7 linked regions of the Homo sapiens genome follow. The protein of the gene in region 3 purifies or fractionates together with the protein of the main gene of each other region. This does not show direct contact. Each region holds a gene or a part of one and is shown on either strand. Other genes may lie near its edges. The genes, in order: CHD1L, DDX55, NEIL1, KRR1, YBX3, TRUB2 and GZF1.

What was found.
Region 1: the proteins of NEIL1 (region 3) and CHD1L purify together in Homo sapiens (affinity purification with mass spectrometry; one large-scale study listed by BioGRID and IntAct). This does not show direct contact.
Region 2: the proteins of NEIL1 (region 3) and DDX55 purify together in Homo sapiens (affinity purification with mass spectrometry; one large-scale study listed by BioGRID and IntAct). This does not show direct contact.
Region 4: the proteins of NEIL1 (region 3) and KRR1 purify together in Homo sapiens (affinity purification with mass spectrometry; one large-scale study listed by BioGRID and IntAct). This does not show direct contact.
Region 5: the proteins of NEIL1 (region 3) and YBX3 purify together in Homo sapiens (affinity purification with mass spectrometry; one large-scale study listed by BioGRID and IntAct). This does not show direct contact.
Region 6: the proteins of NEIL1 (region 3) and TRUB2 purify together in Homo sapiens (affinity purification with mass spectrometry; one large-scale study listed by BioGRID and IntAct). This does not show direct contact.
Region 7: the proteins of NEIL1 (region 3) and GZF1 purify together in Homo sapiens (affinity purification with mass spectrometry; one large-scale study listed by BioGRID and IntAct). This does not show direct contact.

Annotation. Positions count from the first base shown.
Region 1 is NC_000001.11:147,291,060-147,295,150, reverse strand, and holds part of CHD1L (chromodomain-helicase-DNA-binding protein 1-like), read right to left. Parts: intron 3,670-4,091; coding exon 3,599-3,669; intron 1,544-3,598; coding exon 1,429-1,543; intron 743-1,428; coding exon 634-742; intron 1-633. UniProt on the Homo sapiens protein: ATP-dependent chromatin remodeler that mediates chromatin-remodeling following DNA damage.
Region 2 is NC_000012.12:123,600,464-123,605,059, reverse strand, and holds the start of DDX55 (ATP-dependent RNA helicase DDX55), read right to left. Parts: upstream 2,962-4,596; 5' UTR 2,912-2,961; coding exon 2,804-2,911; intron 1,213-2,803; exon of another isoform or gene 1-1,212. UniProt on the Homo sapiens protein: Probable ATP-binding RNA helicase. Has ATPase activity and is involved in the maturation of precursor large subunit rRNAs.
Region 3 is NC_000015.10:75,349,729-75,353,819, reverse strand, and holds part of NEIL1 (endonuclease 8-like 1), read right to left. Parts: intron 2,520-4,091; coding exon of another isoform or gene 2,444-2,519; intron 1,789-2,443; coding exon of another isoform or gene 1,710-1,788; coding exon 1,590-1,709; intron 1,497-1,589; coding exon 1,433-1,496; intron 1,219-1,432; coding exon 1,119-1,218; coding exon of another isoform or gene 1,078-1,118; exon of another isoform or gene 838-1,077; intron 210-837; exon of another isoform or gene 135-209; intron 82-134; coding exon 1-81. UniProt on the Homo sapiens protein: Involved in base excision repair of DNA damaged by oxidation or by mutagenic agents. Acts as a DNA glycosylase that recognizes and removes damaged bases.
Region 4 is NC_000012.12:75,501,359-75,505,449, reverse strand, and holds part of KRR1 (KRR1 small subunit processome component homolog), read left to right. Parts: intron 1-195; coding exon 196-252; intron 253-1,375; coding exon 1,376-1,546; intron 1,547-1,586; exon of another isoform or gene 1,587-3,449; coding exon 3,450-3,527; exon of another isoform or gene 3,528-3,633; coding exon 3,634-3,727; exon of another isoform or gene 3,728-4,091. UniProt on the Homo sapiens protein: Part of the small subunit (SSU) processome, first precursor of the small eukaryotic ribosomal subunit.
Region 5 is NC_000012.12:10,699,026-10,703,116, forward strand, and holds the end of YBX3 (Y-box-binding protein 3), read right to left. Parts: intron 3,110-4,091; coding exon 2,935-3,109; intron 2,329-2,934; coding exon 2,263-2,328; 3' UTR 2,229-2,262; exon of another isoform or gene 2,227-2,228; intron 630-2,226; 3' UTR 64-629; downstream 1-63. UniProt on the Homo sapiens protein: Binds to the GM-CSF promoter. Seems to act as a repressor. Also binds to full-length mRNA and to short RNA sequences containing the consensus site 5'-UCCAUCA-3'. May have a role in translation repression.
Region 6 is NC_000009.12:128,312,391-128,316,481, reverse strand, and holds part of TRUB2 (pseudouridylate synthase TRUB2, mitochondrial), read left to right. Parts: exon of another isoform or gene 1-656; coding exon of another isoform or gene 657-660; exon of another isoform or gene 661-853; coding exon 854-915; exon of another isoform or gene 916-1,058; intron 1,059-2,234; exon of another isoform or gene 2,235-2,384; intron 2,385-2,576; exon of another isoform or gene 2,577-2,592; coding exon 2,593-2,674; exon of another isoform or gene 2,675-2,931; intron 2,932-4,091. UniProt on the Homo sapiens protein: Minor enzyme contributing to the isomerization of uridine to pseudouridine (pseudouridylation) of specific mitochondrial mRNAs (mt-mRNAs) such as COXI and COXIII mt-mRNAs.
Region 7 is NC_000020.11:23,368,203-23,372,293, reverse strand, and holds part of GZF1 (GDNF-inducible zinc finger protein 1), read right to left. Parts: intron 3,533-4,091; coding exon 3,365-3,532; intron 2,711-3,364; coding exon 2,553-2,710; intron 2,204-2,552; coding exon 1,853-2,203; 3' UTR 1-1,852. UniProt on the Homo sapiens protein: Transcriptional repressor that binds the GZF1 responsive element (GRE) (consensus: 5'-TGCGCN[TG][CA]TATA-3'). May be regulating VSX2/HOX10 expression.

The sequences.
Region 1 (4,091 bases), on a different chromosome or scaffold from region 3:
TTCAGTCAAATATGTAAAAAGATGGAGTTTCTGTGTGATTATAGCACTTGGGGTCAATTCTGCTTTCTCTAGTAATTTTGGGACTCAATATAATAGTTCAAAATATGCTAACTTATAGAGCAAGGAGGTCATTAGAAGAAAACGCTAGTCTAGCTAAAGTAGATCATGACTTCATGGTTAAAATAAATTTCATACTGCTTTTTAACAATACATCAAAAAGGTTCAGGAATAAAATAGTTCACTTATTTGTTTGCTTAACTGTTCATTAAAATGAACAGTGTGAAGTTCTTAGAATTAAGCCTTGTTCCACAGACCTGAAGGATCTCTAGAGAAGTGATGTGACAGACTCAATATGTTACCAAATTAACAATTGCTCAATTAATTCTCCCCTTCATGTATCTTTTAATTTATCTGCTGGCATCCAGAAATGCTTGGATGTGTTGATCCTGTTGGGTGTACATATTTGATACACACAAGTTAGAAAGTGCTTCTTTCTTTGTCTCACTGAAGAGGGGGAAAGTAAAGACTGTGGCAGGAAGAAACTTGGTCTTGGATTAAGAACTGACACCAGAAAATGAACACATTTTCCCTCTTGGGTTGGGAGAACACACAATGAAGATCACAAAAGGATACATGTAAGTTGGGATGCCTCTTGCAGCCAGATGTTTCCGAATAAGTCGCTCAGTACCATACCAGTTAAAACCTTTCGTGGCATGTCCAATACGTGGAAGATGAACACTTGCTATTATGAAGAGAAGAACACATGTCTTCACTCATCAAAAATTGATTGATGGGTATAAAATACACATGGGAGAAAATTATTATTGACTATCTCCCTCAAAGCCCATAATTATAATGTCAAAAATATTCCGGGGGAAGAATTGTAGTAAGAAAAATTAAATTATTCTGTTGAACACAAGGACCTACAAGTTCTGGAAATACATACAATTGGAAATAGATTATGATTGGTGGAGGCAAAATTAAAATAAGCAAAGATTCTCTAACAAGCCAATCAATTCAATAAGCTCTGAGACACACTAGGTTTCGAAACAAAACTAAACTCAATTTTTGTCGAAGAACTGTCTGTTATTGGGAACTGTGACTCTCCAAGAGGAGATTAAATAAACAGCATTTACCAACTACATATGACCAAGTTGCTTCATGTCTAGTCCTCTGCCACCTCATCTGTAAAATCACGATAAAAATACCCGGGGGATGGAGACGGCCTACAGAGATAACCGGTATTAAAAGTGTTTTGGAAAGGACAAGGGGCTATATGACTACAAGACGGTGGGGTGATCACTTCTGTGGTTTGCCTTTACCGTGCATATTAAGTGGGATCTTGACATTTCTTACCTCCCTTCAAAAGTCGTATCACATGCCTAGAAACAAATTCATCTACTCTTGAGCACAGGTGGAAGAGCTTACCTTTCTTCTTTTTTGCTGCTAAAAATATCTTCTTCAGGCCCTCTTCTAGGGCTGCCATCTTAATGCCAGACAGGACATTGGAACGATCACGATGCTGAGCCACAATCAAGGCCAACTGGAAAGAACCACCATTAGATGACCAACCCAACATGAAACAGCCACACTCAACCAAGTGACCGCCCATGGAGGCGGCACAGCCCTTGATGGGTCACTTGGGCTTGGCTCTGTCTCTTTCGGATGCTATGCCTGAACAGCAATGTCCTACTATATGTATGACTTCATATCCCGTCATAATTCTTACTTTGTGGTCACTTTATACAGGGTTTTCTTCTTCTTTTTAAAATACTTTAAAACCAGAGAATGAGTCCAAAACATATACTTTCCAAAAGCTCTCAAGGGTTAAAAAAAAAAAGAGAATTTTTCTGAATTGTAGGCATGGAAAAGATCTTAGAGGCTCCTGTATCCCAGCCCTTTGATGCCTGAGTCAGCTCCACAACCCCCAGGACAAGCAGTCATTCCATCTCTGTTCGAACAATTCCCATGAGGACAAAATGCCAAGTATCTCTCAACCATCCTAACCTAAGTGGGCGAGCTGGAGAGTGTCAAGGGAGCTTCCGGGATGACATCACCACAGTCATATCATAGACATGGTGCTCTACTCCCTGTAAACAGTTTTCCTGAATCACTGGATTCTGAGTTTCTCATGCACAGACACTTTACTTTTCTCCTTTTTTAGCATTTTAGAAATTACTGAAGGAATGACTCAACAGAAACCACTTTGCTGTTAGTCACTGTGTAGTTTGGATGTGTGTCCCCCTCCAAATCTCATGTTAGGATGTAATCCCCAGTGTTGGAGGTGGGGCCTAGTGGGAGGTATTGGATCATGGGGTGGATCCCTCATGGATGGCTTAATGCCATACCCTTGGTGATGAGTTCTTGCTCTGGTAGTTCACATGACATCTAGTTATTTAAAGCAGTGTGGCACCTTCCCCCACTCTCTCTTGTTCCTGCTCTTGCCATGTGTGATACACTAGCTTCCCCTTTGCCTTCCACCATGACTGTGAGCTTCCTGAAGCCCCCAGCAGGAGCAGATGTCAGTATCAGGCTTCCTGTACAGCATGCAGAAGCATGAGCAAATAAATCTCTTTTCTTTGTAAATTACCCAGTCTCAGGGAATTCTTTTATCACAGTGCAAAAACAGCCTAACACAGTCACATAGACAGCAACCTCAAAAGGATGAGCCTCTCTTTTGGCCTGATTTTGAAATTTCTTAATTCTGGCTTAAAATCTGAACATGAACCCAGGCCTTGGAGAAAGCCAGGTAGGTGGGGTAAATCAAACTCACTACAGGCATCCCAAGATGCCTAAGATGCAAAAGGATTCTGATGTGGGCAGAGGACATATGTGTTAGTTCCTCTCTCCTGCTTTATTATGGCTGACTAGAAAACACAATCTTTCATAGAAATTTTCACATAGTAAGAAATGAAACCGTCAGAGTTCTGAGTCATGCCTTCTTACTCATGCAGTAAATGTTTATGGAGCATTTCTTATGAGCTAGTACTATGTAGGGTACTGAGGATAAAAAGACAAATAGAAATCCTCGTACTTAAGATGGGATCTGCTATCTGGACGGTGCTCCGGGGACAGATGGATGGAAGCCTGGGGACAGGGGAAGTACAGTGGAGACTATGGCCCAATCTGCTTGTTATAGGCTGAACTGTGTCCCCCCAAATTCATATATTGAAGCCCCAACCCCCCGTACCTCATGTTTACTGTATTTAGAGACAGAGTCTTTAAAGGGGCAATGAAGTTAAAACAAGGGTTTAGGGTGGGGCCTGATCCATTCTGAGTGCTATCCTTATAAGAAAGGAAATCTGGACACACAGACACCAGGGTTGTGCATGCACAGCAAGATGACCGCCATCTGCAAGCCAAGGAGAGAATCCTCGGGAGAAACCAAACCTGCCGATACCTTGATCTTGGACTTTCGGCCTCCAGAACTATAAGGAAATACATTTCTGTTGTTTAAGCTACCTAGTCTGTGTCTTTTTGTTATGGCAGCCCTAACAAACTAATACACTAGCAGAGAGGCCAATTGGGGCAGGGGACACTTCAAGAGAAGTTGATGTGAGTCCACTTGTAGTTCTGAGAAGAGATGGGTTTTACTTACCAAATCTTGCCCTTTGTTTCTTGATTCTTTATCATCAACAGGAAATAAAAGGACACCTCCCAAACTCAGGTCTGAGGTAAAACAGAAAGGAGCAACATAAAGAACACCAAGTTCACTAATGAATGAATCCTCCTCGTATCTCGCCTTCTTCAAATTCAGTTGGGTTTCAGGACCCACCTTCCTACACAGCCCTTTCTCACTTTCCTGGCCTCAGTCAACCTCTTAGCTGGGTACTCACCTGCTTCACTCCTGAATTTTTATGATCTCCTAATTTAATGCTCCTCAAACATTAACAACAAAGTACCCCTGTAGACATCAGAAAGTGAATACAAAACCCAGAGGTAGCTGGGGGGCTTTGGGGAGGGAGCACTATGAGCTTGAAATTCCTTTGGTAGTTTTGTGCTTGTCCTAAATCATTCAAATTATTACATTCTACTTTATCTCTACCTGTTTGTATAATATATTTTCCTACCCCATCCAAATCAAGTAAAAC
Region 2 (4,596 bases), on a different chromosome or scaffold from region 3:
TAACAGAGCAAAACCCTGCCTCAATAAATAAATAAATAAATAAAATACAACCAGGGTTGGGAGGTGATGTCCTCTGATGGACAGATTCCAGTGATGTTGTTAAACATCCTACAATGCCCAGGACAGCCCCATAACAAAAAATTTTCCAGCACAAAATGTCAATAGTGCCAACAGTGAGGACCCTGCTTCAGGCCATTGCTGTCCAATAGAAATAAAATGTGAACCACATAAACAATTTTAAATTTTCTAATAGCCATAGTAAGAAAAGTAAAAAGAAATGGGTGAAATAAATTTTAATATTTTATTTAACCCAATATATCAAAAATATTGTCCCTTCACATTTAGTCAATATTTAAAAATCAGCATTTTCCATTCTTTTTTCATACTAGGTCTTCAAAATCTAGTGTGTTATTTGATACTCAGAGTACACTTTGATTTGGACAAAGTGTATTTCAAGCACTTGATAGCCATGTCTGATGACTGTGTAGTGGATGACAGGTCTAGACAATGAGCTCTGAGGCCAGAGATTGGGTCTTGCTCGCACTACATTCCCTAGGCAGGGCACATAGCACTCCCAGTTTTCATCTCCAGCCCTGCCTGCTGGAAATACATTCTCCACATTCCCGGGAATCTTATGGGCATCTCAAACTCAAGACTTCATTTATTTAAAAAAAATTTTTGTGATGACAGGGCCTCCCTATGTTGCCCAGGCTGGTCTTGAACTCCTGATCTCAAGTGATCCTCCCACCTTGGTCTCCAAAAGTGCTAGGATTACAGGCGTGAGCCACCGTGCCCGGCCATTATTTATTTTAATTTCGAAGATGCGGGTCTCACTATGTTGCTCAGGCTGGTCTTGAACTCCTGGGCTCAAGGGATCCTCCCACCTCAGCCTTCCAAACAAATGGTACTACAGGCGGGTGCCACTGTACCCAGCTCAGTGTTTAAAAACAGGACTCTTGTGGTCAGGCGCAGTGGCTCACTCCTGTAATCCCAGCACTTTGGGAGGCCAAGGCGGGCGTACCTGAGGTCAGGAGTTCAAGACCAGTCTGGCCAACATGGCGAAATCCCGTCTCTACTAAAAACACAAAAATTAGCCAGGCGTGGTGGTGTATGCCTGTAACCCCAGCTACTTGGAAGGCTGAGATGGGAGAATAGCTTGAACCCGGGAGGCAGAAGTTGCAGTGAGCCGAGATCGTGTCATTGCACTCCAACCTGGGCAACAGAGAAAGATTCCGTCTCAAAAAAGTTAAAAACAAACAAACAAACAAAAAACAAAAAAAAGAACTCTTGACTTTCCCTCTGAAACCTGATACGCACGCCAGTCATTCTTGGGAAATGGTAACACCATTCACTCAGCTACTAATAAAAATCAGCCGGGTGCGGTAGCTCAGCCTGTAATCCCAGCACTTTGGGAGGCCAAGGCGGGTGGATCAGGAGGTCAGGAGTTCAAGACCAACCTGGCCGAGATGGTGAAACCCCGTATCTACTAAAAATACAAAAAATTAGCCGGGCATGGTGGCAGGCACCTGTGATCTCAGCTACTTGGGAGGTTCAGGCAGAGAATTGCTTGAACCCAGGAGGCGGAGGTTGCAGTGAGCCGAGATCGCGCCACTGCACTCCAGCCTGGGCAACAGAGCGAGACTCCATCTCAAAAAAAAAAAAAAAAAGAATAAAAACCTCAGGTCCTGTAGTCTTTTCTTTCCTAACCTCCACTTCCAGTCCCTTAGCAACCTTAAAGCTATCCCAAATGTGACTTCTCAGTATCCACTGGTTCCACCCTACTCCAAGTCACCATCATCTCTTACCTGACAATGGCCTCCTAAGCGACCTGCCTGCTTCATCTCTTATGCCTGGAAAGGCCACTCTCTACAGAGAAATCACAGCCCTTCCCTTCCTAAACATCCTCCCAGATAAGATGGCTTCCCACTACATTTAGAATGAAATCCAAGCGCCTACAAGACCCTGCACAATCCATCTCTTACACTACTCTTGATGTTCAGCCACAAAGGCCTCCTTTCTGCTGCTCAAACTATTTGCAGCCTGCCGCAGGGCATTTATGTGCACTGGTATTTCTCTCCAGTGGAATAATCTCCCCCTAGTCACCTCAGAGCCAGCTCCTTCTCAATCACTGAGGTCTCAGCTCAATGCACCTCCTCAGAGAGGCCTTCCTTAACACCCTATCTCACCTCCTCTGCAGTCCTCGCGCGACACTATCACAACCGTCTTAGTTCTTTCATAACACTTACCAGCAGCTGAAATTATCCTTTCTCTAGCTCTTGCACTAGAAAGTAAGGCTATGAGCAGATGCCAATACTGCAAACTCCCCAGAGCCTAGAAGAGTTCCTGACACATAGCAGGTCCTCAAGAAATATTCTTGAAGAGATGCATAACAACGGTAACCCTTACTGAGCTCCCATAGTGTGCCGACTGGTTTATTTAGTCCCCACAGCAACCCCATAAGGAGGGTGTTATTTTTTCGTCATTTCACAGAGAAGGAAAATGAAGCACGGAGAGGTTAAGCCATTTGCCCGAGGTCTCACAGCTACAGCGAGCAGGGCCAGGATGAGAACCAGGCTTGAGACCACAGCACCCGAGGGCGGGGTGGGTCGCGGCCCCTCTGCCGGCTCGCTGGCCGGGCAGCTCCGCATTCCGCCAGTCTGGGCAGCTGGAGACAAGGCAAGAGCCCCAGCTGGAGGGATGAGCGCCCCAGGGCTCAGATCTGTCCGATCACCTCCTGTGGGTCCGATGCAGCGGGTGCCTGCCCCTCTCCCAGCCTCACTCCCCCACGCCAGGGAACCGATACCTGCACCGGCGTCATGTACGGGAAGCCCAGCTCCCGCAGCGCGCCCAGCACCTGCGGGTGCAGCGGCACAGGCAGCGACTCCCAGGAGCCCTCTGTCACATGCTCCATGGCGCGCTCCTTCGCCGCGTCGGTCGCCGCTGCTCGAACGCGCCTTGTGCACCCCCAACGAGCACTTCCGCTTCCCGCAGCTCCAGCGGCCGGCCGGGAACTTCGCTGGAGCAGCAGAGTTCCGGAGCGCGGCGAAGGCTCCCACGCCGCGGGAGGGAGGAAAGGCGTCCGCGGGACGGTGGAGGCAGGCGGCGGGGCAGGCCTGGGGAGTTACACCCGCTCCGCACAGCGCCCTGGGCTCCGGGCGCCTCTCCGCACCGGGCAGGAGTTTTGGCGGGAGGGATTCTGGCCCGGCCCTCCCACTTTCTCTGCCCCTCGGAGGCAGGTGGCAGCACAGGACCGCGTCCAGGCCGAAGGACAGCGGGGCTGGCTACCGTGGGCAGAGAAACGTGTCGGGGACCCGGGTTAGCAGCCCTGCAAAACAGGCACCCGCTGATGGCCGGTACGTCCTGAATGTTGCGGTCCGATGGCCGGTACGTCCTGAATGTTGGTTTACTTTCCCGGAAGTTAGGGTCAGAGTCCTAACTAAGAACACTGTCCCATTCCTCTGTTCACTGTTTGCCTGGGCCATTCATGTCCACATACAACTTCACTCAGAAAGCTGTTTTTGTTGTTGTTGTTGTTGTTGTTGTTGTTTGAGACGGAGTCTCGCTCTGTTGCCCAGGCTGGAGGCTGGGCGCTATAACGGTTCACTGCAAGCTCCGCCTCCCGGGTTCACGCCCTTCTCCTGCCTCAGCCTCCCGAGTACCTGGGACTGCAGGCGCCCTCCACCACGCCCGGCTAATTTTTTGTATTTTTAGTAGAGACGGGGTTTCACCGTGTTAGCCAGGATGGTCTCGATTTCCTGACCTCGTGATCCGCCCGCCTCGGCCTCCCAAAGTGCTGGGATTACAGGCGTGAGCCACCGCGCCCGGCCTTCACTCAGCAAACTTTTATTGACCACTCATTATGTGCCCTCTATGAGGGCCTATCTCCTCCACCTATGTGCATGGCTTGCTCCTGTTGAGGCTCTGAAAACGAAACCCCAAAATGAAGGCCCCAGAGGCAGCCTCAGAAGCAAGTTTCTCTCTGACCTTCTGCTCCCTCTCTGATCTCTGATTCTCTGAGGCTAGCCATAGAAACTCAAGAATCCCTCTTGCCCATGACGGAGCATAGAAACAGGAATCCCTTTTCTCCACAGTCAGCCATAAAACCTAAAAATATTACTCTCTCTCCACCTTTCTGTGAAAAAACTGGCCATAAAGAAATTATTGGCCTGGCACGGTGGCTCACGCCTGTAATCTCACCACTTTGGGAGGCCAAAGCGGGCAGATCTCAAGGTCAGGAGTTCGAGACCAGCCTGGCCAATATGGTGAAACCCCGTCTCTACTAAAAATACAGAAATTAGCCAGGCGTGGTGGCGCATGCCTGTAGTCCCAGCTACTCAGGAGCCTGAGGCAGAAGAATCGCTTGAACCAGGGAGGTGGAGGTTGCGCCACTGCACTCCAGCGTGGGTGACAAAGCGAGACTCAGTCTCAAAAAAAAAAAGAAAAAGAAATTATCTGGGCTAGGTGCGGTGGCTCATGCCTGTAATCCCAGCACTTTGGGAGGCTGAGGCAGGCGGATCACCTAAGGTAAGGAGTTTGAGACCAGCCTGGCCAACGTAGTGAAACCCTGTCTACTAAAAATACAAAAAATTAGCCAGG
Region 3 (4,091 bases):
CTGGCATGCCATAGCAGCGCAGCCAGGCTCGAAAGGCAGCAAAGTCCTCCTCCCCGCTCTCTGACCCGTAGCCTTTGCCCCCTGTGGGACAGAGGAACAGGCAGAGATCAGAGGGCAGGCTCAGGTTGGGAGGAGTGGGGAGCCTGGTTAGACCTGGCCCAGACCTCAGCTACACAAGCTGATGGACTGAGTCAGGGGCCACACTCTCCCTCCTCTGGTGATGTGACCTCAGCTGGTTTCTTCCCACTCGGCCATGGGTTTCCCATCCTGGAGTGGGATTAAGAATCCTTGTCCTGGCCCTGTGCAGTGGCCACACCTGTAATCCCGACACTTTGGGAAGCTTAGATGGGAGAATCCCTAGGGGCCAGGAGTTCAATACCAGCCTGGGCAACATAGGGAGACCCTGTCTCTACAAAAAAAATTTTTAACAATTAGCCCGGTGTGGTGGTGTGAGCCTGTAGTCCTAGCTACTTAGAGGCAGATGTGGGAGGATCACTTGAGCCCAGTTTGAGGCTAGTCCAGGCAACATGGCAAGATCCTATCTCTACCAAAAATATATATAAACGTGCGTGTGTGTGTGTGTGTGTGTGTGTGTATAAATATATAAAAGAATCCTTGTCCTGCCTGTCTCATGGGCAGCTTGGAGGAAACACTGTTTTTTTGTTTTTTTTTTTTTTGAGATGGAGTTTTGCTCTTGTTGCCCAGGCTGGAGTGCAATGGCACGATCTCAGCTCAACTGCAACCTCCACCTCCTGGGTTTAAGCGATTTTCCTGCCTCATCCTCCCGAGTAGCTGAGATTACAGGTGCCCACCACCACACCTGGCTAATTTTTTGCATTTTTAGTAGAGATGGGGTTTCACCATGTTGGCCAGGATGGTCTCGAACTCCTGACCTCAGGTGAGCCACCCCACTCGGCCTCCCGAAGTGCTGGGATTACAGGCATGAGCCACTGCGCCCAGCCTGGAAACACTATTGACAAGTGAGGAGGCCTAGTCCATTGAGTATCAGCTAGGGCTACAAACTTCCAAATCGGTGAATCAGGTCCAGAGAGGGACAAGTGCCCCAGGGTTACACAATCATTTGCTGAAGCAGAGGTTGCTGCCATCTTTGGCCTCACCCAACTGGACCACTTCCTTGGGCACTGAGTGACATAGCTCCAGCAGGTCTGGATTCTGCAGCTTGGTCCTTATCTTCTGGCTCAGGGTCAGCTCCGGGCTCTGAGGAAGGGGCAGGGGCAGGACCTGTCTGTCAGCAGGGCCATGTAAAGGCAGCTGACCTTCTCTCTGAGCTTGGTCAGACTTTGGGCAGTTCATCCCCTCCCCACCCCTGTTGTTGAGCTAAGCTGGGGACACCTGACCCCACCCATCTCCTTGCCGGCCCATGTGGACACCAGTGTGCCAGCACGTGTGCTCCATCCCTCTCTGGGCTTACCGGCCTGTGCTGCTGCAGGGCCTCCAGGACCGAGCGGGCCTTCTCAAAGGGGGGGATCTTCAGCCTGTAGTGGGGGCAAGGCAAGCCATGCTAGGCAGTGGGGAATGTGGGCACACCTGGCCCACCGCAGTCCCCATGCCCATGCCTGCTTGCTGACCGGTACAGGATCTCTGCCCGCAGATAGTTGCCAATGCCATTGAAGAACCTCTGGTCCAGGAGGGCCTCGCAGATGGGCCGGTCAAAGGCCTTATCCGCTAGGTTTCGTAGCACATTCTCCCTGGAGGAACACGGTCTGGGTGCGTAAGACCCATCCCCACCCTCCATGGGATGGGGAGAGGGGCTCAGAGAACCTGTTTCTGGGTGCAAGGGGAAGGAAACTGGGAGTTACAGTTCCTCTTCTCCCTGCCCCCGTTTTCCTATCTGTTAAATGGGAACATCAAGGGATTTAAATTCATTGTGAAAGGACGGCCAGGTGCAGTGGCTCATGCCTGTAATCTCAGCACTTTGGGAGGCCGAGGCGGGCAGATCACTTGAGGTCAGGAGGTCGAGACCAGCCTGGCCAACATGGTGAAACCCTGTCTCTACTAAAAATTCAAAATTAGCCAGGCATGATGGTGGGTGCCTGTAATCCCAGCTACTTGGGAGGCCTGAAGCAGCAGAATCTCTGGAACCTGGGAGGTGGAGGTTGCAGTGAGCTGAGATCGCAGCATTGCACTCCAGCCTGGGCCACAGAGCGAGACTCCATCTCAAAAAATAAAAACAAAATTAAAAATAAATTCATTGTGAAAGGTGAAAAATACTGATCTAAAGTAACTTGAGGCTGGTGTGGTGGCTCACACCTGTAATCCCAGCATTCTGGGAAGCTGAAGCAGGAGGATCACTTCAGCCCAGGAGACCAGCCTGGGCAACAAGGAAGACCCCATCTCTACCAAAAATTTAAGAAGTAGCCAGGGGCTTAGTGATGCACTCCTGTGGTTCCAGTTAATCAGGAGGTTGAGGTGAGAGAATCACCTGAGCCCTGGAGGTTAAGGCTGCAATGAGCTGTGATGGCGCCACTGTACTCTAGCCTAGGCAACAGAGCGAGACCCTGTCTCAAAAAAAAAAAAAAAAAAAGCAACATGAGGTTGTATATGAGGTTGTGTGTTTATCACCTCAGACTCCTCAGGACATGAGAACAGTGTGGCCACAGGACCTCAAGTGTGTTTGCAGTCTGGAGCTCCCTGTATAGCATTTGTGGTGGGTTAGAGACCATATGTGGGTTTGCCATTGGTAGGGTCCATTCTTCTCAAGATCCTGGACATTGTCTGGCTCTGTGCAGGAGATATGTGGAGTACCAGTGAGGGCCCTAGCAGCCCCCACCCCACCTCCAAGGGTCATGGGTCTCCCCTCCTCACCGTGAAGAGGATGTGCATCTTGTTTCTTTGCGGAAAAGGGTCATGGCAAGACTGACTAATGGGTGTGATGAGTGGGTCAGAAGACAGAGTTCTGGGGTGAAGGTACAAGGGTAGCCTGGGAGGTGCCCTGATCCCTGAGGTAAGCCAATTGCCACACGCCCCAGCTGGGGGACTAAGAAAACAGCCCAAATGCTCGTGGTTTGAGAGAAACTTCAGAGCCAGCTGGCAGAGTTAACTTGTGGCGTGACTCCCCAGGAAGGCTGAGGTGGGAGGAATCCAGGACCAAAGACAGATGTTTCCCTGGGGATGTGCTTGGAGTTCACACAGGGGAAGGCCAGGAGTCAACTTTCTTCTAAGGCACCAGAGACATCTCCAACCCATCCCACAGGTATCCAAGTCTCCTAAGGGTCAACGGACGCACAGCATCCCCCAGAAAGGGAGAACTTGCCAACCCTACTCCAGGCCTCTGCATTTGTGACTCTTGCCAGTTCCAATGCCTTCCTCTGGCTGGCTCCTTCTCATCAGTCAGGCCTCAGCTCAAACCTCCCTAGAGTGGCCATTGCTAATGTACCCCCACCCTCGGCCAAGTCATCCTCTACCTCCTTCACCTGTTGGGTTTTCCTAAGGCATGGGTCCATTTCTCATTCCCCTATCCTATGTGAACATCAGTTCTGTGGGAGCAGGGACCACATTCATCTTGTTCACTGCTGTACCCCGAGCCCCTAGAACAAGGCCTGGCATGAAGCAGAGACTCATACACGTTTCCTCTTCAGAGGAAAGGAAGTGGCCAACACTGTGCCATGTGAGGTGACCTGCATCACATCCCAGGTGGGGCTGTTACACCCTACTGCAGGCAGGGAAGTGGCGCAGAGGAGACCACAGGACACAGAATACTGGGCAGGCCGGATGTGGGAGACCACAAAGCCCAAGGCGGAAGCCATGTCATGAGATAGTCCCCTCCCCATCCCCTTGAAACAATTCCGCTCAGCCTCACTTACCATATTAAAGCCCCTCCACCTTCTTAGCCTCCTGGGAGCCCTGAGAGGTGGTGTGGGATTGTGGGTGGGAGCCCCAGCTTCTCTGACACTAACTGGCCACATGTCCTCAGGGCAGTACCTACCCATCCTCCTCTTGGCTCTCCTCTCTCCTCCCCCATCAGTTATTATTATCATTATTTTTTGAGACAGAGTCGTGCTCTGTTGCCCAGACTGGAGTGGAATGGTGCTGTCTCAGCTCACTGCAACCCCGGCCTCACCGGCTCAAGC
Region 4 (4,091 bases), on a different chromosome or scaffold from region 3:
TGTATTGTATTCAAGGGAGATTGACTGCCTTTATGAAAGATGGAGAAGCCACTCAGAGCAGTTGAAGGAACTACTTAATTATTTAATTACATTATTTAATTTGGTACCCATTACCTGATTTTTGCAGTATTAATCCTCTTCTCCATAGCTCATTAAAATCCTTGTGACTAATTCATTTTTCTTTGCAAATTTCAGGTTAGAAAAGTAGTCCTTGATACTATGAAGAATATTCATCCAATTTATAACATTAAAGTGAGTGGTAATTATATATAACTGTACCAGTGATTATCATACTTCTTTTAGCTACAGAAACCTTTCTTGAAATTAAATGTTTTATGAAATTCTAATGCACAAACAGATAAAGCAGAGCTATTTTGGGTAAATTAGGGGTAGACTTCAGCCTACTTAATTCTACCCCAGTTTTGTAGGTACTTCTTAGAAGCTCTCTGTGGAGCACAGTGTGAAAACTACTGAAGGGGATACTGTAATATGTTATATAGTTGTAATCAATGAAAGTAAGCTTCACAGAATCTGTTGTAGATCATATCAATCCAGTTTTCTTAGATTATGAACCCATGTATTTAAGGATATGATCTTTCGGAAATCTGCCTTTTTCTATTAAAATCTGGAACATCTCATGTTGCGTTAAAACCTTTTTATGAATTTAACACTCAAATTGTAGCTCCTTTGAGAGAGAACTGTTATATCCCTGTGTGCACAAAGTTTGATTATTCTTGGAAATGTAACCATGGTATATAGAACTATTTTATGATGGGTTTGTTGAGCAATCCACTTAAATTTGATGAACTTAAGTTATAAAGTCACTGTTAGATTGGGGGAAAGTGATTTTGAGTTACATTGGGATATTGGGATATTGCAGACAAAAACAAAACTATGTGTCTGATCCCTGGTTTGCATCCTCTGATGTTCCATGGTCTGAAATTTAAATGGAATAGGGAAATGTGAAAATACTGGTTTTCTGTAATCGTGAGAAAGTTTACTTTTGTCTTTTTCTGTGATATTTCAGTTGCTACTGAAAACTTCCTGCTTGCAGGGAACATCAGCTAATTAAGAGCCCTCCCTGCTTTTATAAGTGGCATTTTAAATGTTTTAATGAAATAATGGTTGAAAATTCAGTTTTATTTTTGTCTCATTTTAACAATTCTGCATTTTGTAATTAAATTTCTAATGGTTTTCTAATAATTATACATGTTTGTGATAACCTACCTTTTTGCTTATGTAATTGGTTTAATTTCACCAAAGAAACTAGGAACTGTTTCTTTTATTATTTATAGAAGCAATATTTATAATGTCTGAGTCTGACAAATGTGTGACTTTGGAAAGTAAAAATTTTTACTTTGTTGCATGACTAAAGAGCTTAATGATTAAGAGAGAGTTGGCAAAAGATTCTGAATTACGATCACAAAGTTGGGAGAGATTTTTGCCACAGTTCAAACACAAAAATGTGAATAAACGCAAGGAACCAAAGAAAAAAACTGTTAAGAAAGAATATACGCCATTCCCACCACCACAACCAGAAAGTCAGGTTAGTACTAAATGTAGAACTTCATATGAAGGAGAATCTATTTTAATGTATTTGGTCAGAAACTTTATTGAAAGTATTTCAGGTGGGATATGTGTATATATATATATTGTGTGTGTGTGTGCAGAGCTATAAGAAACTGAGGGTAAATATAAATAGGCATATTTTGAGCTGAGTGCATGGGGGTGTGCAGTGGGGCGTTCACATTGATTATAAACTGCATCCAGGAGGTTTGTGACCCTGTAGCCACTGTAAATGTTCCATGGATAAAAGTTCGTTTAGTCTGCAATACTCTTTTCTCTGATTTGGCAACATTATTGTGACTGTGTGCTCTATGGTTGTTCTTGTTCTGAAATCTTAAATTGTAAATTGTAACACCCACCGTTTTTCTAAGTTATGATTCCTTTTGTCAGGTGTCTTCTGCTTCATTTCCTTTCCCACCATGACCAGTTTCCATTTTGTTCTTGCACATCATTGTTTTGATTCATGCCCCTTTTTACTTCTGTCCCACCTTCTCAGCAAAGCTCTAAAACTTGGATCAGTCTAAAAACTTGACTTCTTCCTTGCAACGTGGCTACCAAATTAAGTTAGAGAAAGTTTTATCTTTGGATTAATTTCATTCAAAATTCATGTTTCCTCTTAATTCTCTCAGTGCCCTCCCATGTTTAGCATATGACATTGCATTTTATTGAAATATTTGAGACCACCAGATAAGAACCCCTTTCTGTTTCCTCTTCTCTCACGTATGGGTTTTCTTCCACCTGCATCAGCCTCTTCTATGTGTTCTTTGAATTCCATCTTCACCTGTCTCCTGGGGGTTCTTGCTTCATTATTCCCTTCCTTGGCTATATCCTAAAGCCTTCCCTTTCTACTTCTGCTCAGCATGTGAACTCATTGCTTTCTACATCTCTTTTTTCCACAACCATGGTTGGAGTCTTTCAGGGAAGATTTGTGATTGACGGGGAAAATGATGATCATAGTGAAAAAACAATGGAAGTTTTGGATCATGGAGGAAATTGATAGTAGTTAGGGGGAAAGTGGAGTGATGCAGTCATTAAACCATGCTTCCATAACACCTGCCTTATTTCTTATGGCCCTTTCTTGTAGTAATTGACTTATCTTTCTTCTGTAGCTGTGTAAGCTTCTTGAAACAGTGATGTCTCGATTGACTTGTTCTTAACACTTAATTCATTATGTGACTGGGCGAGTTATTTATCCCATCCATACTTAAGTTTCCCCATACCTAAAGTGGGAGTAATGGTAATACCTATCTTAAAGAATTGTTAGTGAGGATTAAATGAGTAATTATAAAGAGCTTAGAACAGTGCCTTAGATATAATAATGCTATGTAAGTGGGAGACAGGTCAGTTATACACATTTTACATGTTGGCTGTATATTGAATGAACAAGCTGTTGCTTTTGCTAATTAGTCACCAATTCCTGATAGTTCTGGCTTTTATTCTGCATGCCACTACCTTTATTCCAGGCTCTCATCTATTCTTCATTCCTCTCCATTAAAATTATTCTTTGGTCTTTACAGTCTTCTCAGAAACCTACAGTCATTTCTAAATCTTATCCCTCCTACTTTGTCTGCCATTGAAGCTTCTTCAAATTTTCCCCAAAACTCTCTCTCCAGTTTCTTCTCACACTTTTCTGAATCAGTGACCTTCCATGCCATATCCCTGAACTACTCTGGGTTGTATTCCATGGAGGTGCTTTCCTACCTCCACACTTTTGTGTATGTATTCCCCTCAGCTTAGACTCTGTTTCCTTTATGTCACTACCATTTTTATTAATAAATCAGTTTGACCCCATTGTTTTTACCCTAAGGATATTGTGACTTGCTTAGGACATGACTTCTCCTCTACATTATTTCTGATGTAATTGTAAATACCGTTTTCAACAGATCGATAAAGAATTGGCTAGTGGTGAATACTTTTTGAAGGCAAATCAGAAGAAGCGGCAGAAAATGGAAGCAATAAAGGTACGGCACTTTATGTCTGGCTCACATGAATAGCAAAGTTCATAGATACTTGAATTATTTAACTATAAATACATTTAACTGATATATTTTTTATTTATTAATGTAGGCTAAACAAGCAGAAGCCATCAGTAAGAGACAAGAGGAAAGAAACAAAGCATTTATTCCACCTAAGGAAAAACCAATTGTGAAACCTAAGGAAGGTAATGCTTTCTATGATGTAAAAGTCTTTATTAATTAGGAAAAGTAAACCCATAATAAATTTGTCTGAATCTTTTTAAGAAACAGTTGTATCTTTTCATCAGTTCTCTTAGCATTTCATTAATTACTAATCCTAAGGACAAGGGATGGCTGAGATAATTTATAATTTAGAGGCAGCTAATGCCTATTTCAGTGCAAACTGGATTGACAGTCCTCTCCTGACCTCTGGTCTGTGCTTGGAAAAGACTCTTTGTTGTGAAAGATACAAACCCAGGGCAGCCAGTGCATCTTCTGTAGAAATGCAAGAAGATCCCTGAGCTCTGCTGTCATGCCTCTCAAAGAGGAATTATCAGAAGTTGTACTTTT
Region 5 (4,091 bases), on a different chromosome or scaffold from region 3:
AAGTGGTGGAGAAGACAAACACACGCTAAGGTCGGCAAAAATACACTCCCATTAAACATTCTGTCCTCTGAAGGGTAAAAATTTTATTTTTGAGGAATTTCTTACTGCACATTTTCAAAGAGAGTCACATAAGAAAGCAAAAATGTTATCCTCCCCTCATCCTAGAAATAAATAAGAAGGACATAAATTTTTTTTTTTTTTAAATCATGACACTTGGAGGTTTAGCACCAGCATCCAAAATGAACAAAAACGGAAAAAAAAGCATTTACTATATATTTCAGATTTCTTTGGTTGGGGTTCTCCCCATGTGGTATTAATATTTCTTGTTTCAATATATATATTACCAAAACAGTAAAAACCAGGAAAAAAAATAGAAACCTAGCGGTTGCTGAAACTGGAGAGGCTACTCTCTTGTCTTCCGTGCAGGAATTCCCAGGTTCTCAGCTTGCTGGAAAAATTTGTTGACATTTTCTTTTTGTAGTTGTTTCTTAAAGAATAACAGTAAACATTCCAATGTCCAAATCTTGGTTAGTCTTCCACTTTATTGCTTGGATGTTTCTTTGGTGTTGGTTAAGGTTGTGGCCTGCTTTTTGCTTTATTTCTGAATGGTCATTAATTCTTTAGGTCACCTGGGAAAAATTAAAATCAAACTTATAAAGAGTGACAAAGTAACCATGAGTTAAAGAATAAAAAGGCAGAAATTATATGCTTTTCATATAATTAGAAAAAGAGTACTTCAAATGCTCTAAATACAATCACATCTTGTATAGATCTGTAAGCTATATGTTAATTAAATGGAAACTCTCACTTTTTAATAAAGTATTTTTATAAACCAGAAAAGTCAGTACATAAGAGCAAAAATTTTATAAAATTGTATAAAAGAAAATTACCATTACTAATGAACAATACTCAAAATCATTTTAGTGGCTGCACCCTATCTCCTAATATGAATATATCACAATTAGCTATTTACCAAATGTCAGACAGACTGTAAATTGTAAAAATATTTTTTCCCAATATTTAAAATTATTTCCTTAGAAACAATACCTAGAAATAATGTTACGCCATAAAAGGGTATGGCCATTTTTATATTATTAATATGTTACTCTGAATCAGCTAATTCCAAGTTTGAATAGGGAACTTATTTCTGTGACAAACTGTCCATGCTACCCAAGATAAAACAGAATATTGTCCTCAAAGTGAATGCTTACCTAATTAATGGCTGATTAAAATCCCACATCACTGGATATAAAAGCAGATGGCCTTAAGACACAAGAACTTATAATAATCCCAAAACTTCATTGATGAAATTTTAACAATTTTTGAAAAATAGCATTGACACTGAGTTTACAACCTCTCTCTTAACTAAAAGCTAATGGAAAGGGTGATAACCAAGAAGTATAAGAACTAAAGTCTCAGTTAAAAGGGTTATAGGTTAAAAAAAAACAAACCCAGAATTTATAATTGAGTTGATCTTTCTGGCTATAATTCTATGTAAATAAAATGTCCAAGACCTTTAAAAGACAGAAAAAAGTAGAAAATGACAAGAAAATAACAAGCTATCCTTTTACGAGAGGTTATTCTTTACCATACCCTATTGTAAACACTCCCTGTTATTTCACTTAATAATCCTTGCAACGACCCTAGTAAATATAATTAGTATCCTAATTTTTACCAGTAGCAGATAGTACTGAGACAGAGGATAAACTGCTCAAGATCACCCAGCAAATGAGAGGTACAGTAGAGCCTGCAATGGGTAGATAAACCTTGGCTCTTATACACTATGCTGCACCGCCTCAAAATAAATAAAGTTGATTATCAAAGAAAAAGGGAAGGAAAAAAAATCCTTTAGTTTATTCTACTGTTTCTGATTACTAAACAGGTTCTGAAACTGTTTCTGATTACTAAAACCAGGCCTTTGTTAGGGACTTTTAGCATCAGTTTTCCTAAGTGGTACTAGTAGTTAAAAAACTGCCTGTCTAGAAAAAAGAAGTTGAGTATCATCAACTCTGTCTGAATGCTTATACCCTCACCAAAGCTTATCAAAATGAGGTCAATCCCAGAAATATTTAACCACCAAATCACTTTTTCCACAGAGTCCCAATAGAGACAAGGGGTTGGCACAGATGAACTGCAGAACTAGTTTAGACTAATTTGTACTCTTGTTGAGAAACCAGTGATACTAAAAAGAAAATACCAACTCAAGACTGGGCTGCCCCAGCTCTTACCTGCCGATGGTGAAGGTGCCTGAGGAGCCTGGTGTTACTCAGCACTGCTCTGCTGGGTGGGTGGAGCAGGGTTCTCAGTTGGTGCTTCACCTGCCTTGGCCTAAAATGCAAAACAAAGCCATAAATCAGATAAAGTCAGATGACAGTGGAAAGTTCAAGACTGAAAGTTCTTAAAAGTTTGAATTTTCCTGTGAAGGAAAATTAGCATGCAAAAATTTAACTACTCTTAAGTATGAGTCACAAATTAGTACCATATTCAGTCCCTGGCATCTCTACCAAAACAAAACGAAACCAAAACCTCACAAAAACAAAAAACAAAACAAAACAAAATTAGTACCATATAAGAACAGCTTACAAAACGGCAACTAAATACCACTACTCTCCATAAAGTCTGATATACAACTGCTTTCAACTCATGCTTAGAGGCAGCTTCCTCTTGATAAATGCCTCTCTTCTTTGAAGAACCCCAAATGTTTTAGCTCTGAATCCCCATTAATATGGGTCATTCTTTCAGAGAATGTTAACTGGATTCAAATATGTGGTCTGTGTTATGTACAAGGCATACCCTATATATATGGATCTTGAGCAAAATGTTTTTATATTTGTTAAGTGTCAGGTTTCATGTGATAAAACCACTTTTAGAATGCTAAAGTCTGACATGATTAAAGACTATCTGGCAACATCCGCCCTGACTGGTTGGATTTACCTCTTTGCCATCTTGTGAAGGAGCGTTAGGAGGACGCGGGCGACGCCGGTAATTGTAGGGACGCCGGTATCCACGGCGAACAGACGGCTGGTTTGGACCACTGGTGGCTTGCTGATTTTCTTTATCTTCAGCCTCTCCAACTGCTGGGGCAGGTCGTGGGCGAGGAGGTCCCCTGCTGTAGGGAACACAGAAGAAAATAGAACAGGTGCCAACAGGACAGGGCTTCTCCAGAAAATAAGGTTTTATTTATTTTTAAAAATTAAAAAGTCAAGTGATCAGGGCCAGGCATGATGGCTCACCCCTGTAATCCCAGCACTTCAGGAGGCTGAGGCAGGCGGATCACTTGAGGTCAGGAGTTTGAGACCAGCCTGGCCAACATGGTGAAACTCCATCTCTACTAAAAATACAAAAATTAGCCGGGCGTGGTGGCACATGCCTGTAATCCCAGCTACCTGGGAGGCTGAGGCATAAGAATTGCTTGAATCCATGAGGCAGAGGTTGCAGCAACCCGAGATTGGCACACTCCAGCCTGGGTGACAGAGGGAGACTCCATCTCAAAATTAAAAAAAAAAAAAAGTCAAGTGATGAGTACTTATTGCTAGAATTATTCGCAGGTCAATGCAACAAATGGAATAGAGGTTTCACGAAAAAAAAATCTTAATTTTCCATCATTTTCCCCTTTCATTTGAATACATATTTGTAAGGAACATACATATACTGAACACATACTCTGTTCCTATCAGGCCCTTTGATAAGCACTAAGAATAGGAAAATTAAAAAAGAAAAGAAGAGTAGTCTGGTATCTGCCTTCCATGAACAGAATTTAGCAGAGACTAAGGGAATTAAACATGAGAAGAAACATTATTATGTGCCAGAGCCTGTGCTAGTCGGTTTTAAAATTAAATATTTAATTTGAATGGTAATTCTGTGGATGAGATTTATAACAAGAAAACCAAGAGGTTTACATGATAAAGTATACGGCTGAGCTATATAAAAGTGCTGCTTTTATAGGTTAAAAAAGGTCAAATATGACTTTCCAAGATCACATATCCAGGGACTGACAAAGCTGAGCCTCACACGCTACTGAATCCTTTTTGTTCCAGTAAGACATTTCTATGCCGTCTCTTTTATTTTCAAAGTCCCTAGTACTTAATCAT
Region 6 (4,091 bases), on a different chromosome or scaffold from region 3:
GAAGTGACCACAGTGGCCACCGTTTATTGGGCCCTTCCTCTGTGCCGACTGCACAGCACCCACAGGAATCAGTATTTTTTTTTTTTCCTGAGACAGAGTCTTGCTCTGTCTCCCAGGCTGGAGTGCAATGGCATGATCTCGGCTCACTGGAACCTCCGCCTCCTGGGTTCAAGCAATTCTCCCTGCCTTAGCCTCCCGAGTAGGTGGGATTACAGGTGCCCGCCACCACGCCTGGCTAATTTTTTTTTTTTTTTTTTGTGAGACGGAGTCTCACTCTTGTTGCCCAAGCTGGAGTGTAGTGTAGCACCACACCTGGTTAATTTTGTATTTTTTGGTAGAGATGGGGTTTCACCATGTTGGCCAAGCTGGTCTCAAACTCCTGACCTCAGGTGATCCACCTGCCTCGGCCTCCCAAAGTTCTGGGATTACAGGCATGAGCCACTGCGCCTGGCCTTCAGACAGTATTTTTACCCCCATTTTACTGATGGGGAACTTGACGCTCAAAGAGGCTAAAGATTATACTCAGAGCTGTCCCTGATTTGAGTGCAGGTTTGTGTGACTAGGCCAGGGATCTCTTCCTCTCAGGTGTCAGAATCCTGTGGAGAGCTTGGCAGGGATCCTAGGCCCCCTCCAACCATGAGTCAGATTCAGTGCATATGGGTAAGGCCCAGCAATCTGCATGTGATATATACCCAGAGGGGTGCACCTGCCCCCTGTAGAAGATCTTTTTGCCTTCTTGTTGCCTTTGGCAGCATCAGAAAAGGGAGTATTCTGATGGTGGGGGTAGGGGTGGGGATACTTAGGGGAATGGGAAGGGGGTCCCAGGTGTGAGATGACGCTGGCTGCTTTTCAGTGCTCGGCGTGGGACATGGATGCAGGCTCCTCACCGATATGTACAATGCTCATCTTACCAAGGTACGAGGGTCTGGGGACAGCCTGCTTCTCCCTTGGTCCTTTCCTGGGGGTCACCAGCAGGATTCTGAAGCTTAGAGGATTCCGTGGGGGAACACCCAAGCCATAAGCAAGCATTTTTTTGATGATCGTGTGCTGTGCAGGGGCTGTAATAATAATAACAATAATAACTACCAGTGTTAGTGTATGCCGACTACTCTGTGCTGAGCACTGTACGTGGATTCCTTTAGGGAAGCCTCACAGCCTCCCTGTAAAGTGGAATCTGTTGTTAGCCACATTTCACAGATGAGAGAACTGAGGCTCAGAGAGGAGATGTTACTTACCTAGGTCATGTAGTTGTTAGGGCTTTAAGAGCTGGGATTTGAACCTAGGTCTCTCCAACACCAGAGCTTGATCATGATGCCATTCCCTATTCTGTCCCAAGACTGAGAGGTAGATGTCAGCATCCTACCCACAGGGAGCTTACCATCCAGAGGTGGGGTCGGGGCTATGGAGTCTGATACCACAAAGTATGTACGCAGGTGCCACGTTATGGGGCCCATGTTTTTAGTGGTTAAGGGCACAAATTCTGGAGCCAAATGGCTTCAGTTTGAACCCCAGCTTCTACCACTCTGACAGCTGTGTGTCCTTGGGTAGATTACCTAATTAATATCTGTGTGCCTCAGTTTCCTCATCTGTAAAATGGGAATGAGGGCCAGGTGTGGTGACTCATACCTGTAATCCCAGTACTTTGGGAGGCTGAGGCAGGAGGATTGCTTGAGCCCAGGAATTTGAGACCAGTCTGGGCAACATAGCAAGACTCCATCTCTATTTACAAAATTTTTTTAAATTATAAAAATTTTAAAAATTGTGGCCGGGCTCAGTGGCTCCTGCCACTTTGGGAGGCTGAGGTGGGTGGGTCACTTGAGGCCAGGAGTTCAAGACCAGCCTGGACAACATGGTGAAAACCTGTCTCTACTAAAAATACAAAAAAATTAGCCAGGCTGGTGGCGCATGCCTGTCCTCCCAGCTACTCGACGATCCACCCGCCTCTGTCTCCCAAAGTGCTGGGATTATACGTGTGAGTCACTGTATCCAGCCAATCATTACTTATCTGTGGCAGATGGGGTTAGCTGCACAGATTCAGAGGAGGGGGAGTTTTTACAAGCAGGGATGAGCAAGGGCCTGATCTGGGCCATGGAATCTCATTCTATTTAGAGGCGTGGAGAGAAGCCTACAGGGCATGCTAGAAGGGGCTCGGGGTGATAAATTGCCGAGTTAGGTTGGAGAGGAGAAACATGGAGGCCTGGGGTGGCCACAGGGTGGCTGTCAGCGGTCAGTACCTTTGGAGGCTGCCAGTGCTGGTTGTCATGGAAACCAGCCAGCAGTCTTGTAGGAAGCCTGCTGACTGGGAGCCAGGTACCATGTCCTGCTGAATCCAGGCAGCAGTACTGTGAGACTGGCCCTGTTACTGTCCCCAGGTGACAGGAGAGCTTGAATACAAAGAGAGCAAGAGCTGCTGAAGGCCACATGACAGAGCTGGTGCCCTTCCTCCTGGGGCTGTGGAGCAGCTGGGCAGGGGCTGGGCACATGAGCTTCCTGAGGGAGACCTGAGGACCCCCCACCCCCAGCTTCTGGGGCAGGGGCTACTAGGGCTTAGAATGGGGTCACTGACGGATCTTTACCTCCCTGTCCTTGAAGGATTACACAGTGCGTGGCCTCCTGGGCAAAGCTACAGATGACTTCCGTGAGGACGGGAGGCTGGTAGAGAAGACAACCTATGGTGAGAACCGGAAGTGGCTGCCGCTGCCTCCCTCCGCATTTGCTTTCCCTGAGTCCTCTCCCCGCCCTAGGCCACGCTGGCCCCTTCTCAGTTCCACTGCACACACTAGGCTTGGGCTGAGGCTTTGGCCACGGGATCTGTGCTCCAGGAGCATCCTCTACTCCCCTGCTTGCCTAGCTCAAATGTAACGTCACTTCCAAAGACTCTAGTTTCTCTCCATCTCGTCAGTCTTTGACCTTTTCCTTTTCTTTTCTTTTTTTTTTTTTTTTTTTGAGACGGAGTCTCGCTCTGTCGCCCAGGCTGGAGTGCAGTGGCACGATCTCAGCTCGCTGCAAGCACCACCTCCCGGGTTCACGCCATTCTCCTGCCTCAGCCTCCCTAGTAGCTGGGACTACAGGCGCCCGCCACCACGCCCGGCTTTTTTTTTTTTGTATTTTTAGTAGAGATGGGAGACGGGGTTTCACCATGTTAGCCAAGATGGTCTGGATCTCCTGACCTCATGATCCGCCCTCCTTGGCCTCCCAAAGTGCTGGGATTACAGGCATGAGCCACCGCGCCCAGCCTTTCCTTTTCTTTTCTTTTTTTTTTTTTGAAACGATGTCTCGCTCTGTCGCCCAGGCTGGAGTGCAGTGGCGCGATCTTGGCTTACTGCAACCTCCACCTCCCAGGTTCAAGCAATTCTCCTGCCTCAGCCTTCGGAGTAGCTGAGATTACAGGTGCACACCACCACACCCAGCTAATGTTTTGTATTTTTAGTAGAAATTGGGTTTCACCCTGTTGGCCAGTCTGGTCTGGAACTCCTGACCTCAGGTATTCTGCCCACCTCGGCCTCCCAAAGTGCTGGGATTACAGGTGTGAGTCACCACGCCTGGCTACTGTTCTAAATTTTAAAAAGAGGCCGGGCGCAGTGGCTCACGCCTGTAATCCCAGCACTTTGGGAGGTCGAGATGGGTGGATCACAAGGTCAGGAGTTTGAGACCAGCCTGGCTGATATGGTAAAACCCGTCTCTAGTAAAAATACAAAAATTAGCCGGGCGTGGTGGCAGGCACCTGTAGTCCCAGCTACTCAGGAGGCTGAGGCAGGAGAATCGCTTGAACCTGGGAGGCGGAGGTTGCAGTGAGCTGAGATTGCACCACTGCACTCCAGCCTGGCAACAAAGCGAGACTCCGTCTCAAAAAAAAAAAAAAAAAATAATAATAATACAAAAAATTAGCCGGGCATGGTAGTGCACGCCTATAATCCCAGGTACTCGGGAGGCTGAGGCAGGAGAATCGTTTGAACCTAGGAGGTGAAGTTTGCAGTTTGCTGAGATCTCACCACTGCACTCCAGCCTGGGCAACAGAGCGAGATTCCATCTCAAAAAAAAAAAGGCCAGGTTCGGTGGCTCACGCCTGTAATCCCAGCACTTTGGGAGGC
Region 7 (4,091 bases), on a different chromosome or scaffold from region 3:
TAAATTATAACAGAAATAGATCTTTAAAAAATTGCAAAACTGCTTTTACAAAGCAGACATTTATTAACAACATTTTTTTGTAGAATTTCTAAGGAAACAAATTCAAGACAAAAATCCCTCCAGTAGGTAACAAAATGATCTATTGTTTCAATTCCTTCTGATCAAGTGACTTTATTCCATAAAACAGTACATCAGCTGGGCAGGTTCGGTCTCCTCTGGATGTATGACAGTCATTATTTATTTGTGCTGTAAACATAACTAGGATACAGTGACACTGTCATAACTAAATTTGAAGTAAATTAGTACTGTGACCTCCAAGGGCAGGTGTGAAGCATGTTATCAGCGCCTGAAACACCTTGTAGTGGTTTCACTAACATAAGTTAAAACATAAGCACTTAGGAAGAAAGTCTTCCCTCATTAATTTCTGGCATAGTGCAGCTACATGTTCATTCTGGAACTTAAAGTACCTTCCTCTTAGAAAATCAAAGTGTTTTCACAGCAAGTTTAATAAATTAAAAATGTAGAGAAAAAAGGAACTAGTGAACAAAAGAATTCTCCAAGGTTCCCTTTTTAAATTAATGTTTAAATGTTACATGTGAATCATAGCATTTCACAAGCACGTGGCACATACTCAAGGCCCTAGAACCAAATGTCAACGTTTAACAAATACAGCAGAATCGTCTTTTCATTGTGAATTTTTAAAAGCAATAATTAAGTCCTGCATGAAACAGCCAAAGAAGCATTTGGGACAAAGTTACTGGTTCTTCACAATCAACTCTTTAAGGCATAATCGGAGGTAAGTGTGCTGAGACTTTTGGTCCCTACTGCTATGTTCTCACATGCTCCCAAGGAAATAGACATGTCAGTTACTTGCCTGTTTCCATCTCTAGGTGTGGAAATGAGAAGTCTGGGTTTCTGGAAATTACAGAAATCAAGTCAGAAAAACCTGGCAAAAGTAATAATACTCTGTGTTCTATAATTTGCCACAGTCACCTCATTTTGCAAATAAAATGACTACACAACTTTCAAGTACTCTAAAGCGTCTTAATTTTTCATGCCTCTGCAAAAAAATACTATATTGTTTTGCTAGACTCTTTGGTAGGACAGCTTTTACCTAATCTGATTTTTTTAAGACAAACTGAACAGCCTCATCTCATTTCTAAGTTGATTTTATGACAAACTTCCTAGCTGCGTATGTGCTGAGATTACGCTAGCAGTTTTGCAGGTGTTCAATCTGTCAGTCATACTTTGTTTACTGCCTACAAATGGGGGGTGGGGAGGAATGAATGCAACAATCTATTTCTTCAGTTGCATTTGAGGGTCCCCACAGAAAATCTGATTTGCTTCAATTCAACAGGGAAGAAATGACTGAAAATATGTGGCCCCAGTTTTATTTCAGCTTGGAAGAAAAATACCTTGAAAGTAGTTATGAGAGAAGTAAACCCACATGGAAATATAAGGCAGAGTGAGAAGCCAGGAAGACTGCTAACTACAATATCAGGAGCTGGTTCAGTTCTCTGTACTCTGCAATTAAGACCAGCAGTTATCTATAAACTAGGTAATCAAGAATTAGAACGATTAGCACATACACCCTACACCAGAATTAAGTGAGGTTATGTTCACTGCCTTTTTGTCAATAAAGTAGCTGAGATCATGCAGATCAGGATTTTTGAGGGAAAGCTTTAAAAATGCTGTGATAAAGCCGTGCAAGTTAGCAGAAGTTCAGGAAAATCTGCAGAGGCCATTCTTGCCCACATCTTTGCACATGGACAATTATTTTTCTTAGCCCCACATCATCTTGAGTTCAGCTACCACACACGCAGACTAACAGGATGGGAACTGCTTGAAGCTCTTATTCCATGTTGCTCAAAGAGTGAAGCTGTGTGGGCATCGAGTCTGTCTGTGGGGTCAGCTCGCTAAGCTCACTGATGGTGGTGGCCAGGAGGGTGTCCTGGGACACCACGGAGTCATCTGCCTTGCAGGCTGTGTCAGCAGAACTGTTCTCCTGCATGGTAGGTACAGTGTCTTGGACTGCAGCCAGGTTGTGGAAATGGCCATTTTCTGCAAAAGACAGCAATTTATCCGAAAGCTTGGATGACACATACTCTTCGTCAGGCTGTTCAGTCTTGTGTCCGTCATCGTTCTTGGGCGAGCCATCTACAATGACAAGGAAAGACTTCCATGGAGTATTCTTATCGTGTATCTATAAGTTAAACACAAAACAAAGGTCACTGAATGTGTCTCTGGACAAGTGCATCTTTTAAAACAATAGTCCCTCTACAACTTCAATTTTCAACTTTCACTAATAAGTACCCGCCTGCCACCACCCTCACTGTTACAGAGTAGTCATCGTGGATGGTGCTTTCCCTGGGCCTTGGGGCTTGGTGTTCCACTTCATTCATTCCGTGAGCGTTCCACTGCAGAGACAACCCAAGGAGAAAGTACCTGTTGTCTCGACCTCTAACCACCTTGGAGAATGGTGGTAGGTATTTCTCTTTCCGTGCATCTAAGGGCAGCAGCTTGTTTCTCAAATAAGCCAACCCACTGCTTACTGAGGTGTGCCGCCGAAGAGTGGACTTGTCGGTGAATGTCCGTCCGCACGCATTGCACATGAATGGCCTCTCCCCTGTGTGGATGCGGCGGTGGCGCTGGAGGGCGTTGAGCTGGGTGAACTGCTTGCCGCACTGGTCACAGCAGTAGGGACGCTCCCCTGAGGCAGGGAGAGAGGAGACTGCTGGTGGGTCCCTTTGGCCTACTGTGCTTAATTCTGAATACACACTTGAGTGAATGATGCTGTTGCAAACCACTGGGAAGCCTCAGCATCCAACATAAGGAAGGTTATGTTGGGAACAACTTAAGGGCTACAAATCCACTATCTCTATAATACCAAGAATTTATGGCCTACACCAAAAAGGGGCCAGGACATGTGCCTGCAGCAGGTATTATAACTATAGGAATGACACCTGTTTTCCATGGTAATGGAGTATAAAATTACAAGACCCCTAACAACTGAATATGCATGTGTGCATGTGCATTTACTAACATGTACAGATCATTATCCCTATGTCCACACATCCACATCCACTTCCTACATTCACACCATGACTAAGCTGTCTGTCCTTTTCAGTAAAAACTCCATGTAGCAAAGGGACTTAGTCTTCTCCCGTTTACACACATAAGTGCTCCCACTTTTCAGTTTCTCAGAGTTAGAAACAATCTCTAAAGAAATGCTATTATGACATACAAAGTTTGGCCAGTTTTCTTCAAAAGCTTAGTTCCAAGTAATTTACTGGTAAATCTACAAGCTTTAGAATTTTTTTTTTGGCCAAACTAAACTCCCTTCCCTGGGACATTCCAACCATACCTGTGTGGACTTTAATATGCTGGTACAGTGAATTCCGCTGGGCAAAAGTCCTGAAACATACTTCACATTTAAAGGGTTTGGATCCAGTATGGATTCTATTGTGGTGTTTTAAGTACTCCTTAGAAGCAAAACTCTTGCCACATGTTTCACACATAAAAGGTCTTTCACCTACATGAGAAAATGAAATAAAGTCATAAACAATACAGGCATTAAAAACACATGGAACAGTAGGTCTCCACTGTTAAAACCCACGTGAACTCAAAAGTGCCTTGGTAGGCAGCATGTTACATTTTCCAGTAAAAACTATCATAAAATATATATTCATGTAAGATGCTTGCTACTTACTGAAAGTTGGTGTAAAATATCCTTGGAAATTGCAAGAAAAATTCCATTTGACTAGAATCAAAGAGGTATTGTTTGTTCAGCTGGCTCACATTTTAGAAATTTACTCATTCCAAACAAGAAAATAATTTCACAACTTCTGTTTGGAGGAACTGCTGGATTATTTTCAAAGGAACACTTCTATGGATCTTTATCAGAATAAAGGGGAAGTTGACAATGGATATATATCACTATTCTAGAGTAGCAACTCCAATCAACTTGATTGAATTGTAGGACAAGAGTTTTAAATATCTCACTTTTTGTAGTTTAATCCCACAAATCAGACTTACCAAATTATTAGCTGTGCCCGATTTCACAGACATCAAAATAAAAATAGTGACTTTAA